3 linked regions of the Homo sapiens genome follow. The protein of the gene in region 1 interacts with the protein of each later gene in a pairwise test. Each region holds a gene or a part of one and is shown on either strand. Other genes may lie near its edges.

The links.
Region 2: the proteins of SS18L1 (region 1) and BAG4 interact in binary tests that used the Homo sapiens proteins (3 or more experiments, as listed by UniProt).
Region 3: the proteins of SS18L1 (region 1) and RFX6 interact in binary tests that used the Homo sapiens proteins (3 or more experiments, as listed by UniProt).

Annotation. Positions count from the first base shown.
Region 1 is NC_000020.11:62,167,651-62,171,398, forward strand, and holds part of SS18L1 (calcium-responsive transactivator), read left to right. Parts: intron 1-3,748. UniProt on the Homo sapiens protein: Transcriptional activator which is required for calcium-dependent dendritic growth and branching in cortical neurons. Recruits CREB-binding protein (CREBBP) to nuclear bodies.
Region 2 is NC_000008.11:38,174,633-38,178,380, forward strand, and holds the start of BAG4 (BAG family molecular chaperone regulator 4), read left to right. Parts: upstream 1-2,222; 5' UTR 2,223-2,237; coding exon 2,238-2,507; intron 2,508-3,748. Other genes in the region: U6 snRNA-associated Sm-like protein LSm1, read right to left, coding at 1,643-1,688. UniProt on the Homo sapiens protein: Inhibits the chaperone activity of HSP70/HSC70 by promoting substrate release. Prevents constitutive TNFRSF1A signaling. Negative regulator of PRKN translocation to damaged mitochondria.
Region 3 is NC_000006.12:116,875,480-116,879,227, forward strand, and holds the start of RFX6 (DNA-binding protein RFX6), read left to right. Parts: upstream 1-1,762; 5' UTR 1,763-1,796; coding exon 1,797-2,019; intron 2,020-2,316; coding exon 2,317-2,473; intron 2,474-2,483; exon of another isoform or gene 2,484-2,731; coding exon of another isoform or gene 2,732-2,733; intron 2,734-3,748. UniProt on the Homo sapiens protein: Transcription factor required to direct islet cell differentiation during endocrine pancreas development. Specifically required for the differentiation of 4 of the 5 islet cell types and for the production of insulin.

The sequences.
Region 1 (3,748 bases):
GATCTCTGCCATCATGGGCCTGGCCCTGTCCCTTCCAGCTGGAGCACAGGGTTCAGCCTTGTCCATGGCGAGGTGTCCACATGCGTCTGCCCAAGGCTGCCACACTTTGTCCCAAAAACAAACGCAGGATGTGCTGCTCAGCCTTTTAGTGTCTGATGTAGCTACTTTTTTTTTTTTTTTAAAGAGACAGGGTCTTGCCCTATCACCTAGGCTGGAGTGCAGTGGCCTGATCGTGGCACACTGCAGCCTGGAAATCCCAGGCTCAAGTGATCCTCCTGCTTCAGCCTCTCGAATTGCTGGGACTAAAGGCATGCACCACCAGGCCTGGCTTTTTTTTTTTTTTTTTTTTTTTTAATTTTTGTAGAGATAAGGTCTTGCCATGTTGCCCAGGCTGGTTTTGAACTCCTGGGCTCAAGTGCCACCTCAGCCTCCTACAGTGCAGGGGCTCCAGGTGTGCGCCATTGTGCCTGGCTGATAGGTACTTCCGTAGCTTGTTGTGGGTTAGGTACTCTTGCCTTCCATCATTGATGAGAAATTTGCTGAAAAGCTTAGTAACCTCTTAAGGCCAGTAAGACAGATGGTGTGGTTTCCTCCTTGATTTAGAAGCATTTTATTCCATCTGTTTGTTAGACTCTGACATGAGGAGTGCACATACATGGTGACACTTTACCCTACAGCAGGTGGTACTGTGAAGTCTTGCAGGGGTGAGAGGCCTGGAGATGCTTTGCTTTGAAGAGATTGGCGGATGTGTCATAGCCACCTTCAAACACAACTGTGGCCCATGGTGCAGTGGAGAGGCTGGGGGGACGTTAGGAGGAATGGGTCAAAGGCACCATAAAGAACTTTCCAGGCCGGGTGCAGTGGCTCCCACCTGTGATCCCAGCATCAGGCCAGGTGCAGTGGCTCCCACCTGTGATCCCAGCATTGTGGGGGCCAGGGCAGAGGATCACGTGAGCCTGAGAGGTCGAGACCAGCCTAGGCAACATAGTAAGACCCCCTCTCTACTAAAAAACATTAGCCAGGTGTGGTGGCATGCGCCTGTTGTCCCAGCTACTTGGGAGGCTGAGGCAGGAGCATAGCTTGAGCCCGGGAGGTCGAAGCTGTACTTAACTATGATCACACCACTGCGCTCCAGCCTTGGCAACAGAGCAAGACCCTGTCTCAAAAATAAAAAGAATTTTCCAACTTTTGAGTCATCCCACAGCAGGATGAGTGGGACAGGCTGGTGCTGGAATTGTTCCTGGTGACGGCATCAGTCAGGAGCCTGCAGAATCTGATAAAACGAGAGGGTGTTCATGCGCAGGGCACCAGTAATAGGAGGGGACCAGAGTGGGGCTGACCAAGCCAGGAGGGGACAGCGGGGGCCACGGGGTCACTTGTGCTGGGCAGGAGCATCGGGATGTGGTGCTCGGTGGGGGAGGGGCCAGGAGAGGGTGCGAGTCCCGCGTTCGCGTCACAGTGAGGTTTGCAGTGACGCATACTGGACAGAGCGCAGCCCCTCGTGACCTGGCATCTGGGCGCCATTGCTGCTAGGAGAGACCGCCCATGAGCTGCCAAAGCCAAGTATGGAGCTGGGCGCATGGGATGTGCCTCTGTGAAAATGCAGGCAAGAGGAGACTGTGCCCTTGCACACACGCACACTCACACCGTCAGCCAATGGACAAACACCAAAACAACCAACACAAATGCTTCCGGGTAGGAGATGGGGTTAGGGCTCAGGCAGTCCAGAGCAGGGGTGGAAGCGGCCACCTTCCCAGGACCTCTTGAAGGTATGAGTCCGTCTGTATGTACCTTTGAATCATGTAGATGTATTGGCAGCTTCAGAAGTTAAATTAAACATCATTGGGGCCGGGCAGAGTGGCTCACGCCTGTAATCTCAGCACTCTGGGAGGCTGAGGCGGGTGGATCACTTGAGATCAGTAGTTTGAGACTAGCCTGGCCACCATGGTGAAACCCCATCTCGACCAAAAATACAAAAACTAGCTGGGCTTGGTGGCGCATGTCTGTAAAGCCAGCTGCTTGTGAGGCTGAGGTATGAGAATCACTTGAACCCAGGAGGCAGAGGTAGCAGTGAGCCAAGATCACGCAACTGCACTCCAGCCTGGGGCGGCAAAGCGAGACTCCATCTCCAAAAAAAAAAAAGGAACATCATTGGCTGTCACAGAAACTGAAAGGACCTCACTTTATGGCTGTCCACACCGTCCACACCTCCTGGAGTCCCGAGCGCGGCTGGCGTGTCGTGTGCATTTCTCAGGCCCTCGCCAGGTGGTGACCAGCGTGTCCCAGGAGTGGACGACAGGGTGGTGTGGCCGGGGCCTGTGGGACTCATCTTCCCTGGGCAGTGCTGGGGCCGCCTTGGCTGCGTCCTCGTGTGGATCACTGTGTTTTTATGTGACACGGCTTTGAGCGTCGTTCACATGTTCCTCGTGGCTCATTGTGTCCACATCTTGCTCCTTCTGAGGAAGCAGAGGGTGTGCCGTGGCCTCTTGTTTCACACACAGATGCGCCATGCTGCCCGGCACCTTCTCACGGGCACCCCGCAGAATGCCAGAGGATTCTTAGAGAAAGAAAAGAGCTGGGCACGGTGGCTCACGCCTGTAATCTCAGCACTTTGGGAGGCCGGGGCAGGCGGATCACGAGGTCAGGAGATCGAGACCATCGTGGCTAACACGGTGAAACCCCGTCTCTACTAAAAATAGAAAAAAATTAGCTGGGCGTGGTGGCGGGCGCCTGTTGTCCCAGCTACTCAGGAGGCCGAGGCAGGAGAATGGCGTGAACCCCGGAGGCAGAGCTTGCAGTGAGCCGAGATTGTGCCACTGCACTCCAGCCTGGGTGACAGAGCGAGACTCCATCTCGAAAAGAAAAGAAAGAACCCTGGAGTACTTGCTGGTTGTGGAGGAAGGCCCCACATCTGCCCGCCCCGTTGCTGTCCTGTTGAGAGCACGGCCTGGGCTCCCCCGAGCCCTGCAGATTTCATGCAACACATCTGAAAACGGCAAAGGCCTTTTCCACAGATGTCGTGCCCCCTTTCCCTGCAGTTATCTCAGCAGCCCCCTTTCTTTGGGGATAGGGCGGCTGCTGCCAGTTCCCACTAGATCGCCTGAGCACCCACTGGGGTGTGAGAGCCAGGCCTGGTCCCTGTGTGCTGGGGCTGGGTGTTCTGAGCTGGCACTCTCACAGTTGTTGCATACCTGCTGGGTGCCAGGGCAAAGCTGGCCCGTTTCCTACAAACTGGCTCCTTTATTTTTTTTTTTTGTTTATGTTTTTTTGAGATGGAGTCTCACTCTATCGCCCAGGCTGGAGTGCAGTGATGCGATCTCGGCTCACTGCAACCTCCTCCTCCTGGGTTCACACCATTCTCCTGCCTCAGCCTCCCGAGTAGCTGGGACTACAGGCTCCCGCCACCATGCCGGGCTAAATTTTTTGTATTTTTAGTAGAGACGGGGTTTCACCATGTTAGCCAGGATGATCTCGATCTCCTGACCTTGTGATCCACCCGCCTCGGCCTCCCAAAGTGCTGGGATTACAGGCGTGAGCCACCGCACCCGGCCACAAACTGGCTCCTTTATTATGTAAAGAATAAAGTGGGCTATAAAACATGAGAATATGCAGGCTGACCCCCAAAAGCCTGACACCCTTGAAAACCCACTCCCCCATGTCTCAGATGGCTTTCATGGGGGCAGGAGAAAGGATAGTGACCTTAAGTCTTCTCCCGTGACGGTGACAGCTCGTTTGCCAGCTGTTGCTG
Region 2 (3,748 bases), on another chromosome or scaffold:
GTTACACGTAACAGGTTCATATAGATGTTAATATATATTTAGTCCAATTACACTACATTTCCCTTACATAGCACAATAAGTAATTTGTGTTTAAAAAAATGATCTGTCGGCCGGAGGCGGTGGCTCACGCCTGTAATCCCAGTACTCTGGGAGGCCGAGGTGGGTGGATCACCTGAGGTCAGGAGTTGGAGACCAGACTGCCCAGCATGGCGAAACCTCGTCTCTACCAAAAAATGCAAAAATTAGCTGGGCGTGCTGGCAGGCGCCTGTAATCCCAGTTACTTGGGAGGCTGAGGCACAAGAATTGTTTAAACCCGGGAGGTGGAGGTTCCAGTGAGTCGAGATCGCGCCACTGCACACTACAGCCTGGGCGACAGAGCAAGACTCTGTCTCAAAAAAAAAAAAAAAAAAAGAAAAGAAAAGAAAAAAGATCTGTCAACCATAAAATGATTTTTTTTTTTTTTTTGAGACGGAGTCTTGCTCTGTCGCTCAGGCTGGAGTGCAATGGTGCGATCTCGGCTCACTGCAACCTTCTCCTCCCGGGTTCAAGCGATTCTCCCGCCTCAGCCTCCCGAGTAGCTGGGATTACAGGCACCGCCATAGTGCCCAGCTAATTGTAGGAACGGGGTTTCACCATGTTGGCTAGGCTGGTCTTGAACTCCCGACCTCAGGCGATCTGCCCGCCTCGGCCCCCCAAAGTGCTGGGATTACAGGCGTGAGCCACCGCGCCAGGCCCGTAAAATGAAATTTTAACCATAGATTCTAAATTGCGTATTCACAGAGTAACTGAGACGATTGCAACTTATTTAAAACTATGTGTAAATCATCTTGAAACAAGTTAATGAGAAAGATCACATGATTAAAACAATAAAAAATGTTGCTTGAGGAATAATGCACAGACGGAATTTAGAAAAAAGGAAAGCCAGAACAACTGCAGACGGTTCTTTTCGCTTTTGTATAGGACTGAGCTCCTCTTCCGGACAAAAACCAGGAATAAGGGAGGTCTTCTTAGTAAAAGCAAAAGTAAATTGTCTTAAAAAAAAAAAAAAGGTTGCAAGTGATTTGGTCTTTCCAGAAAAGTCAATACCATGTCTAACAGTGGTCTCTACTACAATAACCTGAAGGTGCTAATGACCCTCACAGTAAAATAAGCTAGCAAATGGCCACACCGTAGAGCGCCTACATTTACTGCCAATTAAGTCCAACTGCCGCTGTCTTAATATTTTCGCTTTTTAATGAATCCTCTCTCTAGGTATTCCGATCCATCCACCGGTAACACGCTGATACTTCGAAATACTGCAGGCAGGAGTGGACGGGGGAGAAGCCCCCCCCCTCCCCGGGCTTCTTTCGTGTTCGGGCCTCTGCTGCCGCGATCCACGGAAGCAAGAATGAGTTCCATCGCTTGGGGCTCACCAGCTAGAGGGCTGGCGGAGGCTGCGAGGGGCAGAAGTAGCAGCAGGCTACTGGGTGGGCAAGCGGTGTGTACCGCAGCTGTGGAGGACATCGACGCGGAACGCCCGGATTGAGCTCAGAACACACCGGCCCCGCCCGGGACTCATTCTACAAGCTTCTTCGGAAGAGGCGCCCGCCCGGGAGGAAGGGTCTAACCCCGGGCTCCACCGGGAGGAGATAAACTACTCACTGTCAATGTCCTCGATGAGGCTGGCGGTGCCAGGCATATAGTTCATTTTGAACTGAAATAATGCTGCAATGCACAGCGGCGGGAGGCCAGCGCGTCCAAAACCTCTTCCCTCCTACCGCAGTCGCCGCCTCGGTGGGACCAAGCCCGGAATCCCGACCGAGACCAGCACTTCTGCCCCGGCTTTCAGCCGCCGGGGGCTGCCGGAAGCTCCTCCATATTACCCTTACCCACTTCCTGTAACACGTGTGGGCCCCCAGGAAGAGGCGGGGCAGCCGTACCGTTGGGGGACACCCTTTCCCTGTTCCTGTTAAGTAGGTAAGAGGAAACTCCATTGGATAAATGGCGAGGAAACGTATACTCCCTCTTAAGGAACACGGTGTCTTCCTTCGTCTCCGGGTTCCCGAGACCCCAGAGTCACTGACCTCCGTCCCTCAGCTTTCGGGGTTCGGCAGCAGAAGGGGCGGGCCCGGGCCTGGGATTGGCTGGCGTCGTCCGACCCCCTTCGCTGCTCTCCATTCGCAATCGCCCGCGGGCGCCTGCGCGATGGGTCGGCCGTGGGGAGCGGGGCGGGAAGCGCTTCAGGGCAGCGGATCCCATGTCGGCCCTGAGGCGCTCGGGCTACGGCCCCAGTGACGGTCCGTCCTACGGCCGCTACTACGGGCCTGGGGGTGGAGATGTGCCGGTACACCCACCTCCACCCTTATATCCTCTTCGCCCTGAACCTCCCCAGCCTCCCATTTCCTGGCGGGTGCGCGGGGGCGGCCCGGCGGAGACCACCTGGCTGGGAGAAGGCGGAGGAGGCGATGGCTACTATCCCTCGGGAGGCGCCTGGCCAGAGCCTGGTCGAGCCGGAGGAAGCCACCAGGTAAGCTTTGCACCCTCTGTCCTTGCGGGGAGGTGAGGGCCCTTGGGGCTGGGGTTCGTAAAGGATCGGGTTTCATACTTGTTTTCCTTATGTGGAGGAGGGTGTGTTGCGGGGGGTGTTGGAGAGACCGAGACTAAGATCAGAGGTTGGGGGGACATGCTTGTGTTCCCTTTGCCCCTCCTTTTCTGCTTCGACCCCAAAAAATATGTTTATTACCATTTAAAAAAGAAAGATCCTGCGCGGACTTACTAAGCTTAGCAGCAGGCTGCAGATCTCTCTCCTGGGAGCGGTGCTGGGTAGGGGTGGCACGGATCTACTGCTCCAGCTCTAGCAATTTATCCTGCGTGGCTGGCAGGCCGGCTCTCCCGGGGAAGGGAAGTGGCTGCAGCCCCCGATGCCGCTCAGGGACCCTCCCGAGGGGAAGGAACCTTTGCGAGGAGGAGGGATCTGGGCATTTAGCTGTTTGCCCCTAATGCCTTGCCTGAGATCGAATCATGAATAATCAGTGTTGTAAAGTACCTTTACGCGGATTGACTGATTTAATTTTCACGGCGACTGCAAGGTAAAATGGCATTACAGCGGCCCTTTTTTTTGTTTTCGAATAAGGAACCGGGGCTCTGCGAGGTTAACTCACTTGCCTAATACACTTGGACCTGCAACATTTTATTCTCCGTTTTCCTGCCGGACATATACTTCTGCTTTGTTAATACAGTCTTCTGGGTAGTGGGTTGTCGTTCTGCGGTGGCAGCATACCTCTCTGTTCGTTCAAGAATTATCCTCATTTGTTGAAAATGTAATAGTGAAATTCTCGTACATTGCTGGTGGGGATGTAAAATGGTGGAAAATAGTTTGGTAGTTCCTCAAAACATTAAGCATTAGAATTAGTCTATGACCCAGCAAGCCCACTCCTGGCTATATACCCAAGAAAACTGATAACGTATGTTCACATAAAGCTTGTCCGCCCATGTTCATAGCATCATTATTCATAATCGCCAAAAAGTAGAAATGTCGTTTTTTTTGTTTTTTTTTTTTTTGAGTTGGAGTCTCGCTCTGTTGCCCAGGCTGGAGTGCAGTGGTGCCATCTCGGCTCACTGCAACCTCCGCCTCCCGGTTTAAGCGATTCTCCTGCCTCAGCCTCTCGAGTAGCTAGGATTACAGGCGCCGGCCATCACACCCGGCTAATTTTTGTATTTTTAGTACAGACGGGGTTTCGCCATGTTGGCCAGGATGGTCTTGAACTC
Region 3 (3,748 bases), on another chromosome or scaffold:
AATTAAGGCAAAAAGTTCACTTAGGGCCTTAACTGATCGTGGTTTTTGTTTCCAATGATCTGTTCAATTGGATAATTGCCAGATTTTCACGTAGTGTCTGTATGACTTACACACACACACACACACACACACACACAAACACATTATCATATGGTTAGTATTTTAAAAAAGAAATTCCAGTAATTTTCCTGAACATTTTTCTTCTTATCATTTCATATAAGTAGACACAGTTAATCACTGGGACTCCCTTTACAGAATGAATCTGAGGGTATCTCTGTAAAGAGGCAACATTCTAAACTTTAGTACTGTACATACAGCTAAGCCCTCTGGTCTGAGCAGGCTCTGAGGCTTTCGGAGGACTGGGTAGAGAAAACTGGCAAAGTTGTCCTGAAGCACTGGAGGGGTATACCCACTTTAGGAGTGTGGAGGGGTGGGTAGCCCCATCCTGGATCTAGCTGCTGGAGGTACCAGATAAGGTGAAAACCTTTGACAAAGAGTTGCTGCCTTTCCCAACAAGTGGTACTAAAAATGGGGAGATTCAAATCCACTCATAATTTTAGCTGCTTTTGCTGTATTACTTAGACTGTATCGCTCCTTCCCATAATTCACCCTTCAGCCACCCACCACCTTGGATCCCATTTTGTTTGTTCTATGTTAAATTTCAATGTAATGTAGTTTAATATTGTCAAAGTCGAAGGCTGATTTCTCTCTCTAATGCTGCAAGAGAAGATGACATGCTGTAGGTTGTGATGAGGCAATGTGATCCAAAGCAGAATCCTTGCTTTTGTTGGAGAGCACTGGACATATAAAGACACTGGGCGTATTTGTCAAAAGAACAGAAGGTGGAAGGAAAGGAAGATGATCTGGCAGTCAGGTAACACCAATCCCAAGTCTCCACTGACCGCTCCCGTCTAAAGAGAGCACAGATTATAGTTTGCCCCCATGAGATTGCCATTTTGGGTTGGAAGATGGTCGCAATTTCATTTTTCACTTAAGCAAACGTCCGTTGCCGTACTGCTAGGTATGAGATGAGTAATCGTCAGGGACGCGTTTAAATTACAAAATAATGGTAAATGGGAGAGAAAGAATCTTTTCTCGGGGTTGAGGCCAGATCCTCCAGGGCTGGGAGACCCAGGAGTGCGGGCCACTGTGCACCCTCGAGCAAAGCAGTGTGTGACGAGATGGGATCTTCCCTCAAATGCTGAGAAGAGCCCTCGCCAATCCCTCGGAAGGTTCCCAGAATAAAAAGCCCGGTCCCTGCTGTGCAAAGACTGAGCGGTACTCCGGTGTACTTTTTCCCTGTCCCAGGCGTGCAGAGTCCACGCCGCGCGGCCAGGTGCCCCAATAGTGTACCTGAAAGTAGGGATGGGGCCAGTTACAGCTGCACTTTCCCTGCAGAAGACAGTGAGCCTTCCCGGGATCTTTCTGGGAGCTCTGAGTGTGAAAACGGTCCTCCGGCCAGCGCAGGTTGAGAGAACGGGAAGGAGGGGGAAGCTGTGGGCGCCCAGGGCGTGACAGGCGCAGGTGAGAAAGTGAGTTTCGCGGGAGCATCTGCCGGGACCGCAGACAGGTGGAGAAACGCAGTCCCACCGCGGCCCACCGCGGCTCCCGGGCGGCCTGGGCTGTACCTGTGCGCGGCGTCCTTTCTGCGCTGAGCCAGGGCACCCCGGAGCCTGCGGCCTCCTTCCCCGCCCCTGCGGCCCCGGGTCCCAGCCCCGCCCCGCCCCGCCCCGGGCTGGGGCTCCGCTGGGGAACCGGCCGAGCGGCGCGCGCGGAGGTGTCCGGCGGCCAGGAGGATGGCCAAGGTCCCGGAGCTGGAAGACACCTTCCTGCAGGCGCAGCCTGCGCCCCAACTGTCCCCGGGGATCCAGGAAGACTGCTGTGTGCAGCTCCTGGGCAAGGGCTTGCTAGTCTATCCGGAAGAAACAGTGTACCTGGCGGCCGAAGGGCAGCCCGGGGGCGAGCAGGGCGGCGGGGAGAAAGGCGAAGACCCGGAGCTGCCGGGGGCAGTGAAATCAGGTGAGTGCTCTGCCGCATCCGGAGCTGGGAAGGGGACGGGGACGTATTCTAAGAAGGGCACCCAATAATAATAATGCATCCCGAACAAACATAAGGCAGATATAGAATGTTCTGTCCAAATCTTTGTATTTCCTCAGTAAAATGTCAAGTAGAGACCTGACATTTTGCATAGCCCCCCTTTCCTCCCCTCCGCCCCCACCCCAGTAGGCTACTCCTTTGAAGTTAAGGTACACTTAAAGGCGACTTAGTTGATTTTATATTCTATTTTTCTTTATCATCCCTTCAACTGGCAATCAGAAATGCACTTAAACAATGGTAACTTTTCCTCTGAAGAAGAGGACGCCGACAACCACGACAGCAAAACCAAAGCAGCGGATCAATACCTGTCTCAGAAGAAAACCATCACGCAGATTGTGAAGGATAAAAAGAAGCAGACACAGCTCACGCTGCAGTGGTGAGACTCGCCCGCAGGGTACACTGAAGCACCTGTTGACGTTTTAACAGCCAGCGTCTTCAGGATCTTTGATTTTCACAATTTACTTCTTCCTCAAACTTTTTGGGAAAGTTTAAAAAACCAATTAGAATTTAACCCAGAATTTTTTTCACTGAATTTTTAGTATAGAGACTTATACAAGTACTGGTGAAGGATTTGCAATACAAATGAAAACCACATTACGTTGTTCCTTATTGACTAAAACCATATTTTCTTCAAATGTAAGCATTAATGAACGTTTTTATGACTTACTGGCTTAATATGCAATCAGTTCAGTCCTTACATATTTGTTGTTTGATAGTTTTTGAGATTATAAAATATGATTCTTAAAAACAACTTAAAATGAGGAAGGATCTTAACACTGCCTTTATTCAAAAGAGGGCAAATTAAAAATAGTGTATACTCCATAAGATGAACTGTGTTTGAGGTAGAAGACATAGAAAAAATCGGTTAAGATATCTATACTAACTTAAATAGAAGTTCAACTATTTTTATACCATCTATCATATATGATTTATAATAATAAAATATTACAAATTGGATTTTGTGGAAAATCTTTTAAAACCAAGAATTTATCAGTAGGATTTCCACATAGAGTGAACATTTTGTAATATCTATCTAAAAGAAAGACGGCTCTAAAGTAAAAGCATTATATTAAACTTTCCTACGTAGTGGGAAGAAATAGGAGCATAAATTTCCTCACAAATTCCAAGTAAAAAACAAACTAATAAAAAGGACTATATATTTACTGATTAGTTACATAACCTAATTTTGTGTAAAGTATGATCTAAGGAGCCTTAGAAAAATACAAGATAAAGAACTAGTAAATTTTATTTTTATTATTTATTTAAATATTAAATTACAATTTACATATAGTAGTTTTTTGTGATTATATGCTTGAACCCTTTCAAAATATTTGAAATATAAGCCAAATATTCATCTAAAGTTGGAGTTTAACTATTGAAGTTGATGTCGTGGTTACTAGTTAAGAATATACTAGAGCAGTTAAGTAATTGAGTTAAATATCTGGGATATTTAGGATACAACTATTTGCAGCAGGATAACTGGGGCAAAAGTGTTTTGATTTCAGATATATTATTGAGCTGTTTCGAATGATTACTCCATTTTTTCCATTTAAATTGAGTGTGTGGAAATATATGTTTCTTTTATGAATAAATGTATACATAAATATATATAAGTTAAGATCAAAGAAAAAACTTGTACCCCAAATGAACA